2 separate regions of the Homo sapiens genome follow, and region 1 is linked to region 2. A link means that fine-mapping ties the variant in region 2 to the expression of a gene that starts in the linked region. Tissue or cell type: monocytes. Region 2 holds a variant in brackets; the other region holds the start of a gene. All regions are shown on one strand. Distances are from middle to middle.

Evidence for each region. PIP is the estimated chance that this variant, and not a neighbour inherited with it, causes the effect.
Region 1: it holds the start of ODC1-DT, and the variant in region 2 is fine-mapped to the expression of ODC1-DT in monocytes (TOPMed, PIP above 0.99).

What each region holds. Positions count from the first base shown.
Region 1 is chr2:10,443,884-10,455,923 of GRCh38, forward strand. ODC1-DT (ODC1 divergent transcript) reads left to right here and starts at 5,845. Exons shown (of 5, transcript NR_110597.1): 1 at 5,845-5,988; 2 at 6,170-6,398; 3 at 8,398-8,586; 4 at 9,986-10,175; 5 at 11,540-11,669. It overlaps ODC1 (ornithine decarboxylase 1), which reads right to left and starts at 4,444. Exons shown (of 12, transcript NM_002539.3): 1 at 4,238-4,444; 2 at 1,272-1,381; 3 at 1,048-1,166; 4 at 591-764; 5 at 212-384. The coding sequence starts at 1,149. SNORA80B (small nucleolar RNA, H/ACA box 80B) reads right to left here and starts at 2,966; the gene lies at 2,831-2,966. RefSeq lists silencers at 2,381-2,610, 3,835-5,314 and an enhancer at 3,625-3,714.
Region 2 is chr2:10,419,431-10,431,470 of GRCh38, forward strand. It overlaps HPCAL1 (hippocalcin like 1), which reads left to right. Exons shown (of 5, transcript NM_002149.4): 3 at 304-705; 4 at 3,553-3,658; 5 at 7,294-8,174. The coding sequence starts at 328. The coding sequence ends at 7,391. Among named protein-coding and RNA genes, the nearest start is that of SNORA80B, 21 kb to the right of the region's middle. RefSeq lists enhancers at 1-416, 417-1,004, 5,333-6,145. The variant G/A (reference allele first, on the strand shown) is at 5,755.

The DNA of each region.
Region 1 (12,040 bases), 24 kb after region 2:
TATAGCCACAATTAAAATAAAAACAATCCTGTTCTAAATACTGTCGCTGATATATTCTGTAGTTTGAGTCCCAGGCTTCATGACTCAATGGGGGTTTCAACTACTTTCTACTAAAGTATAGAAATATAATAATCAGAAATTTAAGTTTGTTTGATAAGAATCCACATATCTTATGCTCCCGATCTTGCCCTCAGATGGGGGAATAACTCACTTTGCTTTGGGATGTGCTCTGGCAACTTTCATCAACTCAACTTCACTATCAAAAGTCATCATCTGGACTCCATTATTAGCAGCATACTTAATTTGAGATACTTGTTTACAAGGATTTGCATAGATAATCCTCTCTGGAGGCACCCCCAGACTCTGCACCAACTGTATTTCAGTCTGAAAAAGAAGAGTGGTGTCATGCTATCCATATGTGGCTTAACACGTGGAATAAACAGAAAAGCATGGGAAGTTGTCATGTACCCCCCCGCCCCATTTGCCTTTAGTGAGCATTTATTGCCCAAAAAACACAACTTGTATCTGCCTCGTGGGGAATACCAGGCCCATTTTATACAACGCTTTTGAGGCCTGCTGCTATCGCTTACCTTGCTAGCACAGTCAAATCCTGTCCCGGTAGCAGCAAGGGTCTTCACGATGGCTTTGCTATCATTACATTTGACTGCATAAAAGGGGGTGACACGAGGGAGAGCTTTTAACCACCTCAGATGTTTCTTTAGAATGTCTCCCAGGTCTGCCACATAGAAGGCATCCTTATCATCCTGAAACAAGAGTGGTCACAGGTGACTCACTAGCAGCCTCACCACACACCACACCAATAGCCAGCGACCTTCATTCCCATCAGTCACAATGAATCCTGCTCTTTTGAGTCTAGCCACTGATATGAGTATCACCATTATCACTATTAATTTACCACCAGTGAATTAATTTCTACATTCCATAACAAGACATGTAAGCCTCATTGCTCTTCCTTAGACCTTGCCAAAGTTTTCCACTTGCCTGGCACTCTCAGCTGCACTGCCAGCATGGGCCTCATATACTTACAGAAGAAGAAACTTCATTAATTTTCTGGTCCAGAATGTCCTTGGCAGTAAAACCTTCATCGAGGAAGTGGCAGTCAAACTCTTCATTACCAAAGTTGTTCATGATTTCTTGATGTTCCTCTGAAATGCAACAAAATGCAAATAGAGTGGAGAAATTCACTTAGAAGCCTTAGCAATACAATTCTTAAGATTAACCTGCAACATAAATGTAAACTGAATACTTACATGGAAAACTAAGAGATGGAATTGAAAGAAATATTTCCAGCTTCTCACAAAGGCAACTCTCCAGGAATTCCAAATCCCTCTGCGTGTGCCCTTGGAACAGCAGTGACAATCTGAGAAATAAAATAGGGAATTTGCTGTCTACCTTAGGAACACATCGAGTTGAAGATGGGGCACTGGCTGAGCACACGCAGAGCTAATCATGCCCCGGATATGAACCACTCACTGGCCTGGTCATCCTAATTATTACTAGGCATAAGGTACATGATTCCATAAACCTTGGCAGTATAAGGACACAACAAAAAATACCAGGTTTTTCCAAGGCAGCACACTAAGCATTTCAAATATTTGTACCAAAAAAATCTAGCATGCAAGTTTCAGAAGCTTATCTGCACTTAGCTCACTGATATGGAAAAAAGTCTTATAATGGTCTGATTTATTTCAGAGCAGTTTCAGTTCCTTAGAAACTTAAAATAGCATTATAGACTTTTTTATTTTTTTTGAGACAGAGTCTCACGCTGTCACCCAGGCTGGAGTGCAGCGGTGCAATCTTGGCTCACTGCAACCTCTGCCTCCCGGGTTCAAGCGATTCTCCTGCCTCAGCCTCCCCAGCAGCTGGGATTACAGGCGCCTGCCACCATGCCCGGCTAATTTTTGTGTTTTTAGTAGAGACAGGATTTCACCACGTTGTCCAGGTGGGTCTCAAACTCCTGACCCCAGGTGATCCACCCGCCTCGGTCTTCCAAAGTGCTGGGATTACATTATAGCCTTTATACACAGCCATACAAACATTTCCTACTTCCACTAAGTCTTAGAATGATTTTTACTGACCAACAGGCATCATGGAAATGTCTGGAGCATTTGAGATTTTACGAGTTAATTTTCATGTATTAGCTGGGTATATACTTCTTAAAAACTGTAATCTTCAAGTCAACTTATCACATTGTATTACAGTTGCTGTTACCTGATCAGAATTCAGTATTTTTTTTTTTTTTTTTTGAGACAGAGTTTTACTCTTGTTGCCCAGGCTGGAGTGCAATGGCATGATCTCGGCTCACCTCAACCTCCGCCTCCTGGGTTCAAGCGATTCTCCTGCCTCAGTCTCCCGAGTAGCTGGGATTACCGGCATGTGCCACCACACCCGGGGCCTGGCTAATTTTATATTTTTAGTGGAGATGGCGTTTCTCCATGTTAGTCAGGCTGGTCTCCAACTCCCGACCTCAGGTGATCCGCCTGCCTCAGCCTCCCAAAGTGTTGGGATTACAGGCGTGAGCCACCACGCCCGGCTAGAACTCAGTATTCTTAAACCAGCGTTGCCTACCAAGTTTAGCAATTCCGGGAATGCCAACTGTCCTTACAGTCACTCTCGTATTTGCTTAGCTATGAGAATAATTTGGGGCTAACTTCACCAAAAAAGAAAAACAAGCAAGAACATCACTCTAGTAACAATAAAAGCCACTGTATTTTGCTTTCATCAAATGTGGCACCTTGTGAACCAGCTTTCTTAAAATTATTTATTTTAACCTTTAAAAATTTCTGCCAGGTAGAGCTTTCTTCTTTTCCACTGTGCAACCCACTTCAGTGCCAGCAGCCTACGGGCACAGAGGCCAGGCAATGGTTCGGGGACACAGTTTGCTCTGGCATGGGGTACTATGACAGGCCCAGGGTGACGGGCCTGTCATAAATCCAAACCCATGCATAGAATTTGCTTTAAAGCTCTATCTATTGTGACTGCTTGGCATTGTCAACCTCCGAAGTTGCCTAAATCACCCCTCGGAGAAGGGAAGAGAGTAACAACGCTAGCAAAACCATTTTTGTTACAGACATGGTTATATATTTTTGTTTATATGAAGAATATTTACAATTTAATAATAAATAGGCTCATGCAGTCTCGGACTGGGTCATTTGAGGCCTTATTAAATATTTTTAAGGCAATGTTCAGGCCTAAACTTGGAAAGTTTTGATTTCTTTTTAATACGCCAATACTTTTTTGCTTTTCTGTATCTTTTAAGGCGTTACTTAAGTAACTTACTTGAATATATTTTACTGAAGAACACCTTTCGGTCTTTCTGTAACAGCTAAGTTATTTAAAATGGTCAATCAATTAGCACAAGAGGATAATGTTAGAAGAGATAGGGGCTAATTCAAACAAACTTTGAAAAAAATTTCACAAATCAATTAAAGTCTGCCCAATTTTATGTTTAAACAAAGTCAGCCAACACATTCTTTGTCCTCCCCAGACATTCCTGAGAGGTTCTGCCTTCTACACTTTCACCAATTATTTCGACTTCGCAAACAGCACAATCAGCCTTTTCTGCAAACCTTAGGGCTGTCTCCCCTGTGTATGTCCGTTCATCTAAGCCAAGCTTTTCCGAAATCACCGAGTCATTCACAGTCCTTAAATAAACACCTCTAAGTCATGGCCGAGCATCTAATATCACAGCTACTACAGCAAGACTATCTTAGCTCTACCCACTCTCGCGGGTTTCCAAATTGGTGTCATCTGCTCTGTAGACACAGCGAAAATAAAAACTGGAAGGAAACTGAAGGCGCCAAGGCCGGGGCCCGCTCGTCTGTACCAAGGCGAGCCCGGGCTCTGCGCCCCTGCACCTGCTGCGCGGCCGCCAGGGCCTCCCCAACGGCTCCCCGGCCAGCGCGCGGCCGCCGAAGGGTTGGGAAAGAGGCCGGCGCGGGGCCGCAGGGTCTCCGGGTGGGTCTCCCCTAGGCCCCTCCAGCCCCGAGCTGTGAAGACGGGGGCAGAACGAGGCGCCCGGATCACCCTTATCCAGCCGCGGGAGAACCCCGGGCCGGGAGGAAGCGGCGCCTCAAGGTCGTGGCCCGCTCGGCGACCACGTGTCTCCGCAGGCCGGCGAGGCGCGCCGCACACGTGCCCGGGGCCCGGGGCCCGCAGCCCGCCCCGGCTCCCGCCCTCGCTCCCTCCCTTCCTCCGCGGCCGGGGAGTCCCTCACCTCAGAGCGCCCAGGCGCCGCAGGCCAGCCCCATGGGGAAGCGCAGACGCCGGAGCCTGAGTCGCAGCCGCAGGAGCGCTCGGCCGCCCCCGCCGCGCCCGTCAGCGCCTGGCTCCCGCCCGCCGGAGACGCCGGCCCGAGGTGGCGCCGGAGCTGCTGGCAGAGGGGCGGCGGGCGGCGGCGGCGGCGGCTACAGGAGGGACTGACAAAGCCCCACGGCACGCCGCTCCCTACTTATAGCACCGGCGGGTCGCCATGGAGACGCACCAGCTCAAACCAGCCACGATCGGTTCCGGCCGGGACACCGCCGGGGGAGGGGCGGGGGCCCGGCGGTGGCCAACCCGGGCCCGCGCGGAGCTGGTGGGGCGCCGGCGGGCCGACGTCAGCCGAGCCGAGCACCGCCTGCCCCACGCGTGGCCCCCGCCCCCGGCTTCGCGCCCCGCCCTCCCCGCCCTGCGGCCGCCTCTCCCCGCCCTCCCCGCCCTGCGGCCGCCTCGCCCCGCCCCGCCCTGCGGCGGTCTCGCCCGCCTGGAACTGGTCCGCGCACGCGCACGACGCCGCAGGCCCCGGCCCCGGCCCGCGGCAGCTGAACGGCAGAGCCTGTAGCTGCACAGCTGTGCTTCCACCTGGCGTTCAGTACCTCGTGCCCGAGAGCGGAAAAGGGAAATCGCGAGCGGAGGACCGATGTGCTGGCCACGTGGGCCCCGCCGGGCCGACTCCGGACCCTGCTGCCGCCCATTCCTCCGGTGCAAGGGACCTGGAAGTGATCCCGGTGCCGCTCTGCTCCCACCAGCTAGGGAGCAGAGGCGCGGGAGGGAAGGGGCGTCCCGGGGGTCGCCAGCACGCTGCGGGCAGGGCTGGCAGCCGCCTCCACGCCCCCGCGCTGGAAGCCTCGTCTTTGTAACATCGAGGTATCCTGTAACTAGATGGGTCCTGGCCTGCGGAGGTAGTTTCCCCTGTGAAGCCAGGGACTCAGCCAGGAGCGTGAGGGGACCCGGATCCTGAGTCTCCAAGCCGCCCACTACCCTCTGCTTTACCGGATGGAACTCATCAGTAACTAGGTATCTTTAAGGGCGGCTCCCTGGCGCGCTCTGAGAGTTACGGAAGTCCCAAAATGCTTTGACCGAAAACGTCTAAACAGTGAATACATAAAGCAAAAAGCCGCGTGGGAAATTCGAGTCCCTAGGAGCGCCCAGGGGACGCCTCTGGAGGTGGACTGCCACTCACTCCAGGCCACGCTGGAATGCCCGCACCAGGGAGGCACTGCACTTGAATTGGGGACACTTTTTTTTTTTTTTTTCATTTTTACCTTTCATTCCCTTTTGGACAATCCAGACAGGATATGTCTCTCCCTAGGGTGGGGATTTCGACTCCTTAGGGTGGGAGTACAGCCGATGAAGAGTTAAGGAGAGGAGTGGGTAGATCTAGATCTAGCCTTGGGTGGGTGGGGGCGGGGTTGGAGGAGCTCAGAGCACTGGCCCAGCGCTGCCCCCAACTTGCTGTGTGCTCTTGGACAAGTTATCTCCCTTCTCTGGGCTTCAGATAACCCAAGGATCCTTACATATCTTTATAGCTACAAAGCCCTGTGAGGTTTTGAAAAACTTCCTTGGTACCCAAAACCAGGTCTGAGGCACAGTCAGTGAATACCTGTTTAATGAATGCATGCATAAATGAATGAATGGATGATCCAGCTCTTCCTGGAGCAGGCACGACTTCCACAGAAACAGAGCAAACGCTAGCCGTAAGCAGAAGTGAGTCTTCTTCCTATGTGAAGGGATGTGGGGGTGGTACGCCCCTATCAACTTTATCTTTACATAGTCCTTGAGCGCCCACCGGGCACCGTGTTCCCCGGACTAGAGGGAGGGAGAGGGGGGTTAGCTCCACCCTTAACAAGCTTAATTCTTGATGAGATTAACCATCAAAACCCATCAGAGAACGTTATAGCTCCAGCGCTGAATGAGACATCTTTGATTCTGTGGTGATGCGGACTTTGTGCCTCTCTGTGAGGAATCACTTTGTTCCAATGACGCAATTTTCCTCACACTCCGGAAGTGTCCTGCACTGCCAGAATCGCCCAGCTTCCCGGCACACCTATCAACCAGTCGTTCCCAGCACTGCCCAGTATGCAGCCTCCAGGCAGAGGGCCTGGATGTCTTGGCAGGTAGGGTTCCCCTAGCAGCCTGGGGGTGGTCAGATAGAAACATTAACTGGAACGTAGAGGCCAGTTCTTGGCTCAGGGAGCCAGGAGGGCTCTGACTGTTGCACATACAAGCCACTCACACTGCTATCGCCCACATACCTTCCTCTCCCGCCAGCCCACCCCAAAGCCCAAACTCCTGCCCGCATGCTGGGAAGGTGAGCCCTTGCCTGGAGAGCCCAGCAGGGGAAATAGAAGGAGGGAAGGAGGCCTGCTCCTTCCCCGGAGCTCTGCTCTGCGGCTGCAGGAAGACCCGCAGAGGCCCTGGGCAGCAGAACTGTGGACAGCAAGGCTGGAGTTGTGAAACCCAACCACTCAGCTGGATTCCAGAAGCTCAGGTGGTGGTGACTAAACCTGGCCTTACTTAAAATGCATGACTTTATTGTCTTTCAATGTATTTTCAGTAAACTTCATCCTCTCCATTACTATTTTCTTTTCTTCGGAAACAAGCAACAGATCTTTGTAAAAAAAATACGTGATGCCACGCACTTAGGAATCACCCTCATGTGGAGATGAGATTTCTTTTTTATTTTTTTTTTCTGAGAGTCTCACTCTGTTGCCCAGGCTGGAGTGCAGTGACGTGATCTCGTCTCACTGCAACCTCTGCCTCCCAGGCTCAAGCGATTCTCATGCCTCGGCCTCCTGAGTAGCTGGGATTACGGGCATGTACCACCGTGCCCAGCTAATTTTTGCATTTTTAGTAGAGATGGGGTTTCGCCATGTTGGCTAGGCTGATCTCAAACTCCTGACCTCAAGTGATCCACCCACCTCGGCCTCCCAAAGTGCTGGGATGACAGGCGTGAGCCACTGTGCCTGGCCAGAGATGAGACTTCTATGTGTGGTGCTAAAAGAGTGAATAAAAACATTAGATACTACACTGGACATGCTTCTAAGAGCTTAGTCATCTCACCTAAGTTCTGGGACCAACTCCCATTTTCTTAGGATTCCTTGGGCCCCCTTACCACCCCCCCGCCGCTCTGCCCCGCTCATTATGAAAGTTTGGACATCACTCTGTCTCTCTGGGTTCCAGACTACCTTTCTGAAAATGGGGTGGTTGGACTGGCTGAAAGCTCAGGTTCTTCTTTCCTTCTAATGTTCTAAGAATCTACTTATTTCACAGAGTTCTGTATAAATCCACTGACCAAGTTTTCTAAACCAAAACCAAAAACATGTCTGATGAAGGAAGTATCTTTTTTCTTCTTTGCTAACTTACATGAAAAGGCTTATAAAGGTATATAGTGATTGCAGACTTAAGCAGTCACCCTTATCATTATTATTATTATTATTTGAGTCAAGAGGCTTGCTCTGTTGCCCAGGCTGGAGTGCAGTGGCGCAATACTGGCTCACTGCAACCTCTGCCTCCCAGTTTCAAGCAATTCTCCTGCCTCAGCCTCCTGAGTAGCTGGGAATCCAGGCGCCCACCACCACATCCAGCTGATTTCTCTATTTTTAGTAGAGATGGGGTTTCACCATGTTGGCCAGGCTGGTCTCAAACTCCTGACCTCAAGTGATCTGCCTGCCTTGGCCTCCCAAAGTGCTGGGATGATAGGCGTGAGCCACCGCGCCTGGCCTCACCCTTATCAAAAAGAAGTAGGTCACATAGAAGACAATAACCAGCAAGCATTTGTGTATCCATTTACTCAGTATTGGAAAGTTTGACATTGAGAGCTTTCTGGAAAATGGGTTTGGGCGCTGCTTACGTGTCCGTGGTTGTACTCTACTTCACCAAACTTCTTCCAGAAGCATAGAAGAGTGGACTGTGGAGTGAGGCTCATGACCTCCAGCCCCATGAGGACTTTGGGAGGTTAGCTTCTGCCCTGGCAAGGGTGCCCTAACTCAGGACACCTGGGTAATGGGGACTAGTCACAGATGCTCTAGTCCCATCTGGATGTTTGGCCAAAAATAGTTTTCCTTAGCTCAGTCACTCACCAGTCCTTTAACCTTGCCCTTTGAATGGTTTTAGGTGTTTCCGAAAAATCCAATCCACCCTCCAAGGTGGAAAGTGTGCCATCTCTGCCCATAATCCAAATGGCGTGCCTGAGGCATAGAAAGCAGCTTTCAGGGAGGCCTTCCTTCCTCTGAGCAATGGTGGCATCATCAGAAAAGTGGAGCTCCTCCAAAAGGATCTGCTGGAAGCAGAGGACGCCCATGTGTAAGTGGAAGTCCCAGGATGTTTGTTTTATAAAGTGTTACATCACGGCCCTACCTTGCCCCAGCCCTGGTGTGGCTCACTGGGAAGCTGCTGGGAAAGGAGCCAAATAGGAACTAGGCCAGGGCCTCCTGGAGCCCAGAAGGGCCCTGGGGGCAGGTCAGTGGGCACACACAGTTGCAGAGAAGAGGGGGCCCTTGTCTGGAGGCTGAGAGTTTGGAAGAGTACTTTTTTTTTTTTTTTTTGAGACACAGTCTTACTCTGTCACCCAGGCTGGAGTGGTGCAGTGGCACAATCTTGGCTCACTGCAGCCTCTGCCTCCTGGGTTCAAGTTATTCTTATGCCTCAGCCTCCTGAGTAGCTGGGACTACAGGCGTGCACCACCACTCCTGGCTAATTTTTTGTATTTTTAGTAGAGACAGGTTTTCGCCATGTTGGCCAGGCTGGTCTCAAATTCCCGACCTCAAATGATCCGCCCGTCTCAGCCTCCCAAAGTGTTGGGATTACAGGTGTGAGCCGCCGCACCCGGCCTGGAGGAGTTCATTTTCATGGGGAAAGTGATGTTTATCATTATTTTGCTTCCCACTTCCTTGTCTTTTTCAGTGGGCAGAAGTCAGAGTCCCATTAAGCCTGTACCGAGTCAGTATTCAGACATGCCATCCGACACGTGGACAGAAGCTTTGCCATCTGCCTACTTGGCTTGTCTGTTTCAAGCCCTTCACTGGTGGCCCTGGGTCCACAGAGTAAAGTCCAAACACCTTAGCCTGGCACCCAGGACCCTCTGAGGCCTGCCCTGCCCACCCTCCCAGCCTCTTTTGCCACTCCAGCTCCCTGAGCCACTGATGTTCCACAGACCCTGCCCCTGCCATCGTAACGTGGGTCACGTGGTGTGGGCACCTTTGTTTCCTGCCTCCATCCTGCCTTCCCCTCCCCGCAACTCTCCCTTTGAAATCAGGACCATGATTTTCTTCTCTCCATATGTTCAGTTTCTAGCCTGGTTCCTGGCTCACAAAGCCATTCAATATTGTCAAGTTGAAACTGGGTTTAGTAGCACCTGTGGGCTATTGGGAACAAAAGAAAGCAAGCGAGGCTGTGCTGAAAAGTGGTCATTTGTGGTTGCTATACGAGTGATTAGCTCAGGAGAATTTCTCCCCACGTGCTATCTAAGATTAGGGGAACAAAAGACCCTGGGTGTTCTTCCTTTAGTCAGTTGTTTGTTGATTCATTCCATACGTGTCTGCTGAGTGCCACCTGTGTGCAAGTGGCAGGCAGGACAAGGGAGGACCCTCTGTGGCTGGGCCGGGTTCCTGGGGACCAGCAGGGAATTGATAAGAGCCAAGAGAAGCCTCGCTTTTACCCAGTGCCTAAGGAAACTGCCTCTTTTGTTTTATTTTCTCCTAAGCGCCTGGTGACTCCCTCTGACCCAACAAGTTGCAGCACCTCTGCTGGGCTTTGCCACTGCCCCATTTTTGCCAGAGCCTCACCCTGGTGGGGCCCCACCTCTGGGAAGCCCCAGCGCCTGCAAGATTTTTTCCTCTCGTGACAGGGAGCAGCATGCGGAGGGCCCTTGCACAACCTGGGTCTTCAGGAAGGTGAGTGCTCTGCCCAGGGGCAGTGTGAGCTCTGCGTCCCTGCCAAGTCAGAGGCGGGACCATCCGAAGGGCCTGTGGCTGGGGTCTGCTACACCGAGCCTTGCGGGCCCTCCAAGGGGTAGGGTACCCTGAGGGCAGTGCTCCCTGTCTCTGTTCTAACAGCTGTGAGCACTTGCTCTGTGCCAGCGCCCCTGCCAGGTGCCAGGGAGAAGGAGGGGAGGCCAAGGAGGTCCCTGTGCTCCAGGAGCTCATGGTCCAGAGGGGAGGCTGCCCCCAGGCTTGTGCTCTCTAGGTTCTGGTCCCTGGGACAGTGGTCACACAGACAAAGGAGGTGGACGCAGCCGAGGGAGCAGGGGCCTGGGTTTGGAAAGGCTCGTCCAGGGCCAGGGAGAGTTAGGGAGGGGCCTGCAGCACCCAGGGCAAGAATAAGACCTGTGGGCACCAAGGGAGGCTCCCGCCCACAAGCCCAGCTTTCCTCTGGGAGAGGACTGAGGGCTGTGAAGGGGAGAGCAGAGGAGGAGTCACTCTGGGGAGCAGCCTCTCACCCCCAGGGGCTGCTACTTCACCCAGCTCCAGCCTCCATCAGTCCATCCAAATCCTGGCTGACAGCAGGGCCCCGCCATCGTAGAAGGCAGGTCGGCCTCCACATGCGGGCACAGAATGTTTCCCTTTGGCATTCCATGCCCTGTATGGCTCAGGGCCCAGGCAGGCAGTTCAGCAGAGGGAATTTAGCAAGAGAACTAGTTACAGAGATGACATGTCTTACAGCTGCAGGAAGCCACTATCACCCAGAGGACTGGGGATGAAAGGGGACGAGGGTCCCCAGCAGCGTGGCAGCCACCTGTGGGCTGTCCCAGAGAAACCCACTGACCACCAAGGGCAAGCAGCTAGTGCTGGGGAGGCTGCGAAGCCAAGAGAGGGAGAGGGAGATGGAGACAGAGAGGAGGGACAGGAGCCAGCTCTCCCCTCCGCCCATCCTCCAGGCTCCCACCAGCACTTCCCAGTCAGAAGCCTGTTGACAAGAGATCCCGGTCAGTGTCATTTTCCAAGGCCAGCCCTGTCCACTCCACCAGAGAAACAGCAGAGGCACAGTGGGAGTGGGGAATGGGTCTGAGAGCGGGCGGGCAAGGGCAGGCTCGGCCCCTTGGCGGTAGGCCCGTCAGAGTCTTCCTTCTGCCTTCTTGTAGGACAGTTTCTAACCAGAGTTCTGGTAAGCACTGGTGACATTTCACATTGGCTTAAGCAATAAGGAAAAGCAGTCATCTCACGTAGCAACGTGGCTTGGGGAAGGGAGTCTCCAGTTTCATGTATTCGGAGCCTCAAGAACAACGTTGAAGACCTGGATTCTTTTCCTGTTTTTGCAGTTCCTTGCCCAGGTGTTGGCCCAGCTCTCTTCATGGTTCCAAGAAGGCTGCCCCAGGAAGGCTTGTGGACAGAGGGAGAAGCATCTCTTCCTCTATGTCTCTTTTTATCTAAGAAACCAGTTTGACCAGCATCCTTCCCCTCGGCTCCCCAGGAGGAATGCACGGATCCCTTCGCCTTCCCCCATCCCTCCATGGTTGACTAAACCCACTAGGATCCACTCTTTTGCGTGGAAATGGGTTCAGGCCTCCCACGAAGAGCATGAAGATGCCCTCTGTTATGGGTTACATTATGTCCCCTGCCCCCGAGACCGTATGTTGAGTCCTAACCCTAGTATTGCAGAACGTGAATTTATTAGGAGATAGGGTCTTTATGGAGGTCATTAAGTTAAATGAGGGTGTTAGGGTGGGCTGGTGTCCTGATATAAAGGGGAAATTTGGGGCTGGGTGTAGTGGCTCACACATATAATCCCAGTGCCTCGAGAGGCCAAGGCAGGAGGATTG
Region 2 (12,040 bases):
CCTGGTGGGCACCGGATGATGCCCTGTTCCACTGATTTTAAGTTGCATTTTCCCCCCCGCATTTCCACATTCTCCAAGTGAGAACGTGTCCCGCAGTGTGAGGGTGAGCTGTCGTGATATAATTAGAGTCTCTTGGCCTTCTTGGTGGTCCATAAGATAGCGGCATGCCTTCCGATGGGGGACCCGGGAGTTGCTGAGTCGCAGCGCTTGCACAGCGATGGGCTTATTTGGTCTCTCCGGCACATGGCTCAGCCCTGCTCCGTGGCCGTGGGTGGCGTCCCCGGCTGACCCCCTGTCTTGCAGGTGTAGTCGCCGCCGCCAGCCGCCATGGGCAAACAGAACAGCAAGCTGCGGCCCGAGGTGCTGCAGGACCTGCGGGAGAACACGGAGTTCACCGACCACGAGCTGCAGGAGTGGTACAAGGGCTTCCTCAAGGACTGCCCCACCGGCCACCTGACCGTGGACGAGTTCAAGAAGATCTACGCCAACTTCTTCCCCTACGGCGACGCTTCCAAGTTCGCCGAGCACGTCTTCCGCACCTTCGACACCAACGGCGACGGCACCATCGACTTCCGGGAGTTCATCATTGCGCTGAGCGTGACCTCGCGGGGCAAGCTGGAGCAGAAGCTCAAGTGGGCCTTCAGCATGTACGACCTGGACGGCAACGGCTACATCAGCCGCAGCGAGATGCTGGAGATCGTGCAGGTACCGGCGCCCGAGGCCCCGGGTCTCACCGCGGGCCCAGGTCCCCTCCCAGCTCCCAGCCCCCAGCCCAGGGCTTTTTTTTTTTTTTTTTTTTTTAAGACAGGAATCTTGCTCTAGTGACTGGAGTGCAGTGGCACTATCTCAGCTCACTGCAACCTCTGCCTCCTGGGCTCAGGTGATTTTTCCGCTTCAGCCTCTTGAGCACCTCCATGCCCTGTTAATTTTTTTGGTATTTTTGATGGTAGAGAGAGGGTTTTGCCACATTATCCAGGCTGGTCTTGAACTCCTAGGCTCAAGCGATCTGCCCGCCTCAGCCTCCCAGAGTGCTAGAATGACAGGTGTGAGCCACCGTGCCTGGCCTCCCTGTGTTCTTTATGTTCACTCGACATTGGGTCTTTCTTGGCCAGGTTGCTACCTGGTGCACTTTGGAAAGTGAGCAGTTGTCACCTGATTGGGCAGACCCTTGCAAAGGGCAATGGTAAAAGCCAATGTTTATTGATCACTTGCTATACATCAGGGCCGGGTGGAGCACTTTGATCCGTTTTCATCTTCATAACCCAACAACGTGGGTCATTCTCTGCATTTTACAAAGTCTGAGACTCAAATAGATGAATTTCTAAAAATTATATTTTATATATATTTGGAGATGGAGTCTCACTTTGTCGCCCAGGCTGGAGTGCAGTGGCATGATCTCGGCTCACTGCAACCTCCACCTCCTGGGTTCAAGAGATTCTCCTGTCTCAGCCTCCCATGTAGCTGGGATTACAGGTATGTGCCACCGCAGCCAGCTAATTTTTGTATTTTTAGTAGAGACGAGGTTTCACCATGTTGGCCAGGCTAGTCTTAAACTCCTCACCTCAGTTGATCTGCCTTCAGCCTCCCAAAGTGCTAGGATTACAGGCATGGGCCACCGTGCCTGGCCAAGAATTGTATGATTGCTGGGCTCCTTGGCACTTGCAAGAGGTACCTGCCAAGACCTGGGGAAAGCCCTGGATTTGAGAACTCAACAGATAGCTTGTGATGTCCCCAGGAATGCGCAGTCATCAAGTAAAACTGAAGCATTAACGATCACGAGAATCAGCTCAGCACGGGAAAGACGTCACTTTAGGAGGCATCTCTTCACCTTCATGCCTATCAACAGCTCTAGCAGAAAGGCCATGTTTCAGAAGGAAACCAAGTTTTGTTCACTTGGCCAGGTGCCTAGGTATGCGAGAGAGAGTAGAGAGCAGAGCTGCCCCTCCCTGGCATTCCCCTGAGTGCCTCCCTGAGCCCAGGAGCATCCAATTCTAGAACTCATGGCCAGGCCTGTAATCCCAACACTTTGGGTGGCCGAGGCTGGAGGATCGCGTGAGCCCGGGAGTTTGAGACCAGCCTGGGCAATATAGTGAGACTCCATCTCTATAAAAAATTAAAAGAGTAGCAGGGCATAGTGGCATGCACCTGTAGTCCCAGCTACTTGGGAGGCTGAGATGGGAGGATTGCTTGAGCCCAGGAGTTCAAGGTGACAGTGAGCTGTGATTGCACTGCTGCATTCCAGCCTGGGTGACAGAGTGAGACCCTGCCTCCAAAAAGACCAAAAGCAAAATAAGAAAAAAATGGAACTCTTCAGAAGGGGTGGTCCCATGGTAGGGAACTTCAGGGGTGGGCCTCCAGTAGCGGGTATCAAATCCGTGAACTTCTGCAGCAGCAGTGGCCCGCCTCAGGAATGAGCGACCCATTTCCCACGTAGATGGTTTTCACACTGTCAGAGTAAATTAACATGGGCTCGGGGAACTCTGGTACTGTCGTCACTTTCTGGCTCTTAGCTTCATGCAGTGGCGGAAGTAAGAATTCTATTCCCCAGGAATCACCCGTCCTGTCCTGTGTGTTAACCCTTACCCTTTGCAAATAGGTGTGCCTGTCACTGGCCGTGCAGAGGCTTGGTCAGAACATCAAGGCACTGGTAGAACTGTTCCAAGCAGTGAGGAGCAGCCACTTCTGTCCAAACGGGACAGCCCCCAAACCAAGTCCCCAAACCCTGAAAGCCTTCCCCCGACGCCATCGATGGCTCCCTGGCCGGCTGGGTGGTGTTTCTCATGGGACACTTGGTTGCTACCTCTTTCTCACAATGAGAAAATGGTCTGTTGTCAGGAATGAGAATATCAAGCCACCTTCACGTGGAGTGCTCAGAAAATCCCACAGCAGTGCCACCACTCCCCACGCATGTCACTCTGCTCAGTGGCCACTCACCAGTCCCATCACCGTCTCCTCTGTACACCCACCAGCAGCACAGAGTCACATGCCCCAGGCTGGGCCACTCAGGCAGAGACACGCAGAGAGACCAGTGGCTAGACTGAGCCCTCGGCTGACAGTGCCCTAAACAGGCCATGGAGACCCCAGTGCTGCTGCTTCCTGTCCTGTCGGGGCTGGTGATGGGGCTTGCCCTGTGAGTTTCAGGGACTCAGTCTCTTTTAAACTGAGGGGTAACAGCCATGGAGTAAAATGCACACAGCTCAGCAGGCAGTGTGGGGAATTTCACACATCTGTGACCACCACTCTCCCTCAGCATTCCCAGCCCCCGACAGGGACACTTAGGCACCTTCCTGGCACTACCCACCCCCAGGCAGAGATACCAGCACCCTCACCACCCTCCCAGTAGAACCCTTCTGCCAGCTCTGCTCTTGAACTTCACATAGACACCCGTGAGGTTCACTAGGGAACATTCTCCCCACTGGGGAAGGGTCCCGAAGGCCACCGGGAGCCCCTGACCTCTCCGAGCCTTGTTGTGGGCTGGGCGGAAGCCCACCCTTGCTGCACCCGCCCAAGCCCCCGGGCCTCTGAGCACAGTGTCATTGCCCCCATCCGCAGGCCATCTACAAGATGGTGTCGTCTGTGATGAAGATGCCGGAGGATGAGTCCACCCCGGAGAAGCGCACAGACAAGATCTTCAGGCAGATGGACACCAACAATGACGGTAGTGCGGGGTGGGGGCGGGGCTGCATGTGTACGCCACGGTAGGGGCAAAACCATGTGGTTTGGGGCACCCCCTCCCCTCTGCAGCTTCTTGGTCTCCTGAGGGCCACCCCCGCCCGCCACCTGCCTGGCGCCTGCCATGCCCAGGGAAGAGCGGGATGCAGTCAGGGACACCCGTGCTGTATCCTGGCTCCTCTGTGCAGCTTTGTGATGCTGGGCATGTTGTGGCCTCTCTGAGCCACTGTCTCCCCACTTATAGAATCGGGCATACCCATATTCCCGTGGGTACAATGTTTAGGGGCAGGGAGGCAAGCATGCTGGTGGCCCTGAACCTGGAGGGGTTGAGATCAAAGGATCCCAGATGTTGGGGTCCTGGGGTGCTGGCCATGCCTCTCTTGCTGCCATCCTGAGAGAAGAAGCTGCCCAGATGGCCCCAGTGTCCAAGGGGAACTGTCAGGATGTACGCTGCCACCTTGTCCACCTACAGCAGCTCTGTGGAGACTCAGCCCCACTGCAGAAGTGCAAGTCTCACGATGGTGGGTGGCAGCAGTGGTGACAGGGCTGTGCCTCGAGTGCCCTCCTCTGCATTGGCTGTGAGGTGAGGGCGGCTGTGCGGCCCTCCCATTCTGCTCTTCTTGCCGGCTTTGTCAAGAGCAGCCACAGCACCAGGTTTGCTTTGCTTTTGAGCAATAAAGAAACACGACCTTAAGAAGAGAAAATACAGGCTGGGCGCAGTGGCTCACGCCTGTAATCCCAGCACTTTGGGAGGCCGAGGTGGGCAGATCACGAGGTCAGGAGATCGAGACCATCCTGGCTAACACGGTGAAACCCCGTCTCTGCTAAAAATACAAAAAAATTAGCCAGGCGTGGTGGCGGGCGCCTGTAGTCCCAGCTACTCGGGAGGCTGAGGCAGGAGAATGGTGTGAACCCGGGAGGCAGAGCTTGCAGTGAGCCGAGATCGCACCACTGCACTCCAGCCTGGGCGATAGAGTGAGACTCCATCTCAAAAAAATAAAGAGGAAATACTCCCTGGGTTGTGCTGGGGATTAAACGATAAGCTAATGCCCAAGAAGCTGCTCTGCGAAGTCTGGAGTGCAGCCCTCGGGTGAGTTAAGCATGGCCCCAGCGGGAGACGGGATGTGGGGGAGCTGTAAGCAGCAAAGAGCATTCCAGGCAGCCAGGTCACAGTTTCAAAACACACACACACAGAAAACAAGGCTGCCTGGTGCCTGGCGTTGCCTTTGGGCTGATGGGAAATGTGTGTTCCACCCTCCAGCCTAGCAGGGCACCTGCTGCCGCTCTCCTGAGGCTGTCCGCTCCTCGTGGGGATGGTGAATCCGGTCCCATGGGGTTGTGAGGTTTCAGCGAGATGATGCCTTAAAGCTTTTAGCAGGGCTTGCACTCCACAAATAATGGCTGTTGTTCCCAACTTCACAGTGTCCCTGGGGAAGCCACCCATGGTCACTCGCTGCCCGAATCTGCCTCCTGGCTTGGCCCTGCCCACCTCTTCAGAGGGCATCTTCTAGGTTGGTTGGGAATTTGGATGGCATGGTCGTTGCTAATGTGCCTGCTGGGATGGAGCACTTCCTCCTGTGAGCCCAGGGGACCCGCCTGTCCCTGGAGCTTGGGGCAAGGAGGGAAGAGTGATACCAGGAAGGTGGGGCTGCAGCCAGGGGCCAGAGTCAGTTCAGGGAGTGGTCCTCGGCCCTCAAAGCTCCTCCGGGGACTGCTCAGGAGTGATGGTGCCCTGGAGTTTGCCCCAACTTCCCTGGCCACCCTGGAAGGTGCCTGGCTGCTCCAGGCCTCTAGGCTGGGCTGATGGGTTTCTCCAGGACACAAGTATCATTAAAGCCACCCTCTCCTCAGCTTGTCAGGCCGCACATGTGGGACAGGCTGTGCTCAGCAACCCCCTCGCCTGCCCTGCCCTCCATCAGGAGGAGCCAGTGGAACCTTCGGAAGCTCCCAGCATCTCAGCAGCCCTCAGAGTCGTCCTGGGGCAGCTCTGGTTCTCCTGACTGGAGGTCCATCTGGGCTGGCCTGCTCTCTCTCGGCCTGAGACAGGAGGGCCTGGGGTCAGGAACTGGAAGTGGGGAGGCT[G/A]GGGCCGTGGACTCTGAGGCCCCACACCTAGCCAAGGAGATGACCACACAGCTGGCTGCCCTGAGTGGTCAGAGGTGGAGGGTGGGGAGCCACTCTCTCCATTGGCAGAGGTTCCTGGGGACTGTCTGCTGAGGGCCTGGCTGTCCCTCCCTCTCCCTACCCACCCCTTAGCCCGGGCATTGTTTGGGCTCTCTTGGGGCCAGCAGGCTGCCCAGGCCCCAGAGGCATCAAGTTCGTGCCCTGGAAGAAGCCAGCCTGCCCAAGCCTGGGCCAGAGTCCCATGAGGACAGGTGTCCCTGCCTGCCAGTGGGCTGGAGGGGCTGAATTCCCAGCAGGGCCCTACTGTGCAGGGGCATCCTCCGTCCTGGTGCTGGTCTGAGTCCTCAAATGCATCCTCCCAGGTGCCTTTGAGATGGGTGTTCCCATTATCCCACCTTCGAGACGAAGATCCTGAGACCTGGAAACGTTGGTGGCTTGCCATGCGCCAGAGCCGAGAGCCCCTCCTGCATGCCTTCCCCTGTGCTGGGCCTGGCTGCATGCGTCTGTGTTGCCTGCACAGACATTTTGCAGGGTGCCCTAGTGATTCCAGCTGACAGCACAGAGCCTCAAACAGACACATGGAGGGGCTGCCCCAGGACCAGGCCGCCAGGACGCAGCCAACCTCAAACCTCATCCTTCCCCACCAGCTGGAGCCAGAGGGACCGCCTCCTGCCCTTGAGGCCATGTCTGAACGGGCAGAATCCTTACAGCCTATCCTGCTTGTGGACTAGCAGAGCCAGGGCTATAGTGACCACAGTGTGAGCTCATTGACAGCGGTTATGGGATGGGGAGCGGAGGGTCAGAAAACCTCACCCCACCCAGCTCAGCCGATCAGCCTTACGGAGCCCTGCCCTAGGCCACGAGCCTCCAGAGGCCACTCAGCCCAGTGTGGAGTCACCGAGTCTGTGTCCTGGGAGAGGGAATATGTTGTCACCAGCATTGGATGCGGAGGATGAGGGGGCAGCTGATTCCTTAGCACGACCAATCTTTTTCTAGGTTTTCCTCTCACCGCATGGGGCCAAAACAGTACAGAGCATGAGTTTGGTACCCCAAGCCTGAGCAGCGGGTCTACGCTGATGCCAGGGAGGATCCGGACCGTGCTTCCGGGGGCCCCCAACCAGCATGGCCTTCTCAGCCTGGATTCTGTATGGGTTAGAGGCAAATGCTTCATTTTTCTGCACAGTGTACACGTTCCTTAATAAGCGAAGTGTGGGGTGATTTCTAAAAGGATTTAAATGGCCCTCATCAGCCACGTCCTGCTGAGCTTGCTGGGTAAGCCCTTTGAGGTACCTGATGTATTGCAGGGAGCAGGGAAAGGAAAAAGGATTTTTTTTCAGAAATGCCTGTAAAGTGAATGGAGACTAGACACCGTCCAGCTTCAAGAAGGCTCAGGACTTTCAACAAAGGGAGCATACCTGACCTGAGAGCTGTCCCCATCCTCTCTGGAAGCATAAAGAACAGTGAGCACTGGCTAATCCCATTGTCTCTGGTCCCCTGCAGGCAAACTGTCCTTGGAAGAATTCATCAGAGGTGCCAAGAGCGACCCCTCCATCGTCCGCCTGCTGCAGTGCGACCCCAGCAGTGCCAGTCAGTTCTGAGCGAGCGGCCCCTGGACAGTTGCAGAGAAACACAGGCTTGTCGTGCCGTTTAAGCTTTGCTTGCAAGAGTGGATGCCCCGCAATCGTTCCTGCTCTCCCGGGCCCCGGGCCTGGGGCATGCGTTGCACCTGCCCAGCCCGGTGGCTGCGCCTCCCTCCTCCACCTGACCAACGCGACATTCCTCCCCTCACGCCTGGCCCGGTCCCTTCCAGGGCAACTCCCAGGGATGTGGTGACATGCAGGGTTCAAGTGTTCTTGGTTCCAGGCACCTCCCGGCTCACGGGGAGCTCAGAGGTCCATGCCGAGGAGACCAGGCAGGACCTCCCGAGGCTGCGCCCCGGCCGGCCCATGCGTTTTGTGATCCCAAGTGACTCTGTGGGAAGGGTGGGGACGAGGCGTCGGGAGGGTATACAGGGAGCCCCTCCCGTGCATGGCTGCCCCCCCGTTCATTTTCTCCACCACAGCCGCTTGCACGTATAGATACTGTGGTCCCCTTTCTTTTAATATATAAATTATGTATGGTGAAGTGGAGTGTATTGTGTAGGTCCCGTATTTAATGCCTCTGACTGCCTTTGAAGCGCAGCCCTCTGTGGCCCGCAGCCCCCTGAGCCTGGCTGTTGTGTGGTATTTATGCTCTCTTTGTCTGCCTGTTTCTAAGGAAATGCATGTGTGCCCTGAGCCGTGATGATCCTCCCATCCGTGTTGTGAGCACAGGCATTTGTGTCTGGTCTGTCCTCCCTGTTGATTGGTCTGGCATTTCCGGTATTAAAATGATAAAATAAATGGCATTTTCTGAGTTTTGCGTCTGCCCGCGGGAGCCCCCATTCCTCAGGCCGTGGCCCCTGCACTCTCCAGGCAAGGCGGGTGTGCTGCGTGCCACCGCTGTTGGTAAATCCGGCCCCTCTTACGTCCCTCCAGCTGTCCCCGCGTTTATAAATCTTGCACAGCCTGTTCTTCAATATCTGCCTAATGCCAAGAAATACTCGTGGAAATAAACGATGACTGTTCTTGGCAGATCTGACGGTCAGGCTTCTGCCTCCCCCCAGCCCTTCCCTCTCCTTCTCCTTCCACGGTTTCAGGTCGTAGGAAAGCCACATTCCAAGAGAGGACGGGCATAGCCAAGGGTGCAGTCAGGCTGGACCCAGAGGTGGCAGGCCTGGTTCTCCATCCAGCCTTCGCCGCTGCCGTCAGTGCTTCTGGTCCCAGCAGCAGAAGGCCCAGCTGAAGAAGTGGGGGTTGGTTGGTCTCGCCTGCCAAGGGATCCAAAGGCAGCATCGCTGGGGATCCCCAGGCATCAGCTTGTCTTTTTTTTTTTCTTTTTTTAAGAGAGAGTGTCTCTCTATGTTGCCCAGGCTGGCCTCAACCTCCTGGGCTCCAGCAATCCTTTCGCATCAGCCTCCTGAGTAGCTGGGACCTCGGGTGAACAGCACTGCGCCTCCTAATCACAGTCAGCTTTTCACCTCAGGCTTGTCTTCCTGGGGTGCCTACAACTGCTGTTGTGGTTCTGGGCAGTACAGCTGACATGGGAGCATCAAGAGGCAGGGAGAGAAGCCTCTGTCCTCCCACTGAGGGACAGGAAAACCCTCCAGAATCTGCCCACCACCCCGTCCCCACCAGCCCCACATCTCATGGCTGAAACCATGGCCTGTGTTCACAAGATGACCATGTCATGGCCACGGCTGGCTTACGCTGGTCAAGATGGCCCTTGGCCAAGGTGGCATCTGCCTCCCCCAGAGGGCATAGGGTTGGGAAGGGGTGAGTGGAATGGAGGTTCTATTACCAGGACGGGCACTACGGCGTCTGCCCACCTGCCTGCTGCTGTCGGCTCCTCTGTGCCTCAGTGTCTTCACTGTAGGGGATGGGGGGAGCTGGGTGGCTCAAGGTCACATATGCAAAGCGCATGGCTTGGAACCTGCCTCCCAGCAGGCCTTCAGCAACAGCAGCTAATTTGTTGATTTTAGTCATTTTAATATTTTTTAAGACTCCATGTCTCTTTTAATAGAAATGGTGAGTCTGTTTGCCAAGTGCCTTCTGAGTCAATGGCACTGCTAGAGCTATTTCATAGTAAAACTCTCCATGCACCCAGAGCCACCAAGCCTTGATGGGGGAACCAGGTGGGGTGCGAGATGGAGGCCAGGTGCCCTGGGCAGATCTAGCTTGCTACAAAGAGGCAAGACGGTGCCTTTGGCAACACTGCCTCACCTGGAAGAACAGCCAGTGAACGGCTTGAATTTTATAAACATTTAACTGGGACTGGCAAAGGTTAAATCAAGAGTGCTTGTTGTGGGGAGGGCTCACTTATGATGGGGACAGAGTCCAACAGAAACAGATGGGAGTGACCACTACATTAGTCAGGGTTCTCCAGGAACAGAACTGATAGGAGACATGCATGGATGGGAGGGGTGGGTGGATGGATGGGTGGGTGGGTGGGTGGATGGATGGATGGATGGATGTATGGATGAGTGGGTGAGGGGATGGGTGGGTGAATGGATGGGTGGGTGGATGCATAGACAGGTGGATGCATGGATGGGTGGATGGATGGCTGGGTGGATGGGTTGGTGAATGGGTGGGTCGGTGGGTGGATCGATAGGTGGATGGGTGGGTCGATGGATGGGTCGGTGGGTAGATGGATGGATGGGAGTATGGGTGGATGGGTGGGTGGGTGGATGGGTCCCTAGGTGGATCGGTTGATGGATGAATGGGTGGCTGGATGGATGGATGGATGGGTGGATGGATGGTTGGGTGGGTGGGTGGATGGATGGATGGGTGGATGGGTGGGTGAATGGTTGGGTGGGTGGGTGGATGCATGCATGGGTGGGTGGGTGGGTGGGTGGATGGATGGATGGATGGATGGGTGAATGGTTGGGTGGGTGGGTAGATGCATGGATGGGTTGGTGGGTGGGTGGCTGGATGGATGGGTGGATGGGTGGGCAGGTGGGTGGATGTATGTATGTATGGATGGGTGGGTGATTGGTTGGATGGGAGGGTGGATGCATGGATGGGTGGGCGGGTGGGTGGATGGATGGATGGATGGATGGATGGATGGATGGATGAATGGGTAGGCGAATGGATGGTTAGATAGATGTATTTATCATAAGGAATTGGCTTATACGTGATTATGGAGGCTGAGAGGTCCCAAGGAGACAAGCAGCCCTGTCCCCTGTAGACAGAGGTCAGCAAGCTGGGGACCCAGGAGAGCTAATGGTGTAGTTCCAGTCTGAATCTTAAGGGAGGAGGAGGCCAATGTCCCAGCTCAAGACTGTGAGGCAAAGAACAAATTCTCAGGCTTTTGTCCTATTCAGGCCTTCAGCTGAGTGGATGAGGACCCCCACATTGGGGAGGGGGATCTGCTTTACCCCACCTGGTTCCCCCATTGGTCACCAGTTCCAATGTCAAATTCATCCAAAAGCACCCTCACAGGCACACCCAAAATAATCGGTTTGCCCAAATGTCTGGGTACCCCCTGGCCCAGTCATGTTGACACATAAAATTAACCATTATAACCACCTCTGCTCAGATATGGAGGAGGTAGATATGGGGATCCTAGTGGACCCTGCCCTACAAGGAGCTCACAGAAGCCAGTATGATTTGTCCAGGAGTCCAGTGCTCTCTGGGAAGGCAGGGAATTGAACCCCAAAGATGGTGTCCCTGTGCCAAGAAGCCCAGCCTATCAGAGGAGGAAAGAACCCAGAAGTGAACCCAAAACTGTCGTCCATGCCACCCACCCAGCAGGAGGCCTCCTCAGTCTCTTCCTTTGTCCGGGATCAGGATCTTTCAGGGCGGGTTGTTAGAAAGTGTCTCGGCTGGGTGCGGTGGCTCACGCCTGTAATCACAGCACTTTGGGAGGCCAAAGCGGGTGGATCATGAGGTCAGGAAATCGAGACCATTCTGGCTAACACGGTGAAACCCCGTCTCTACTAAAAATATAAAAAATTAGCCGGGCATGGTGGTGGGCGCCTGTAGTCCCAGCTACTCAGGAGGCTGAGGCAGGAGAATGGCGTAAACCCAGAAGTCGGAGGTTGCAGTGAGCCGAGACGGTGCCACTGCACTGTAGCCTGGGTGACAGAGACTCTGTCTCAAAAAAAAAAAAAAAAAGAAAGAAAGTGTCTCCACCTGTCCTTCCCTGGTAATTTGCAGTACTGGCCCTGGGCCTGCTTCCTCTTCCTCCAACCACCTCCTTCTGCAAGCTTCTCTCTTGTCCTGCCTTCTCCTTGCCCCAGGGGATCCCAGACCCTTTGCCATCCTGCACGGGCACTCCAAGTTGTTAAAGTTCCTTGGGAGTTGCATACAAGTGTCCCTTATCCTATAGACAGATAGAAGATCTAATCATGTACCTGCATAAGCAAGGCTTATGTGGGTGGACTCAACAGAAACTCTGGAAAATGGCTCCGGTGGCTCCATGGTCCCATCCACCAGCTGTCCTGACACTCACTGCATGGTGTCCCATGCTCACTGAGTAAATACAGGGTAATGGGAACAACTCCTGAGACAGGAAAATGTTTAGACTCGAAGGAAGGAAGCCCTGGAGTGTGGAGGGAAGGGTGGCAGTATGAGGTGTTAGTCCCAAGACAGTTCATCTAGTCAGGCCACGATGAACCCCTAGTAGGGCAAGACTGTCACCTCCCTTACTCTGAACCTTAGGCCTTAAT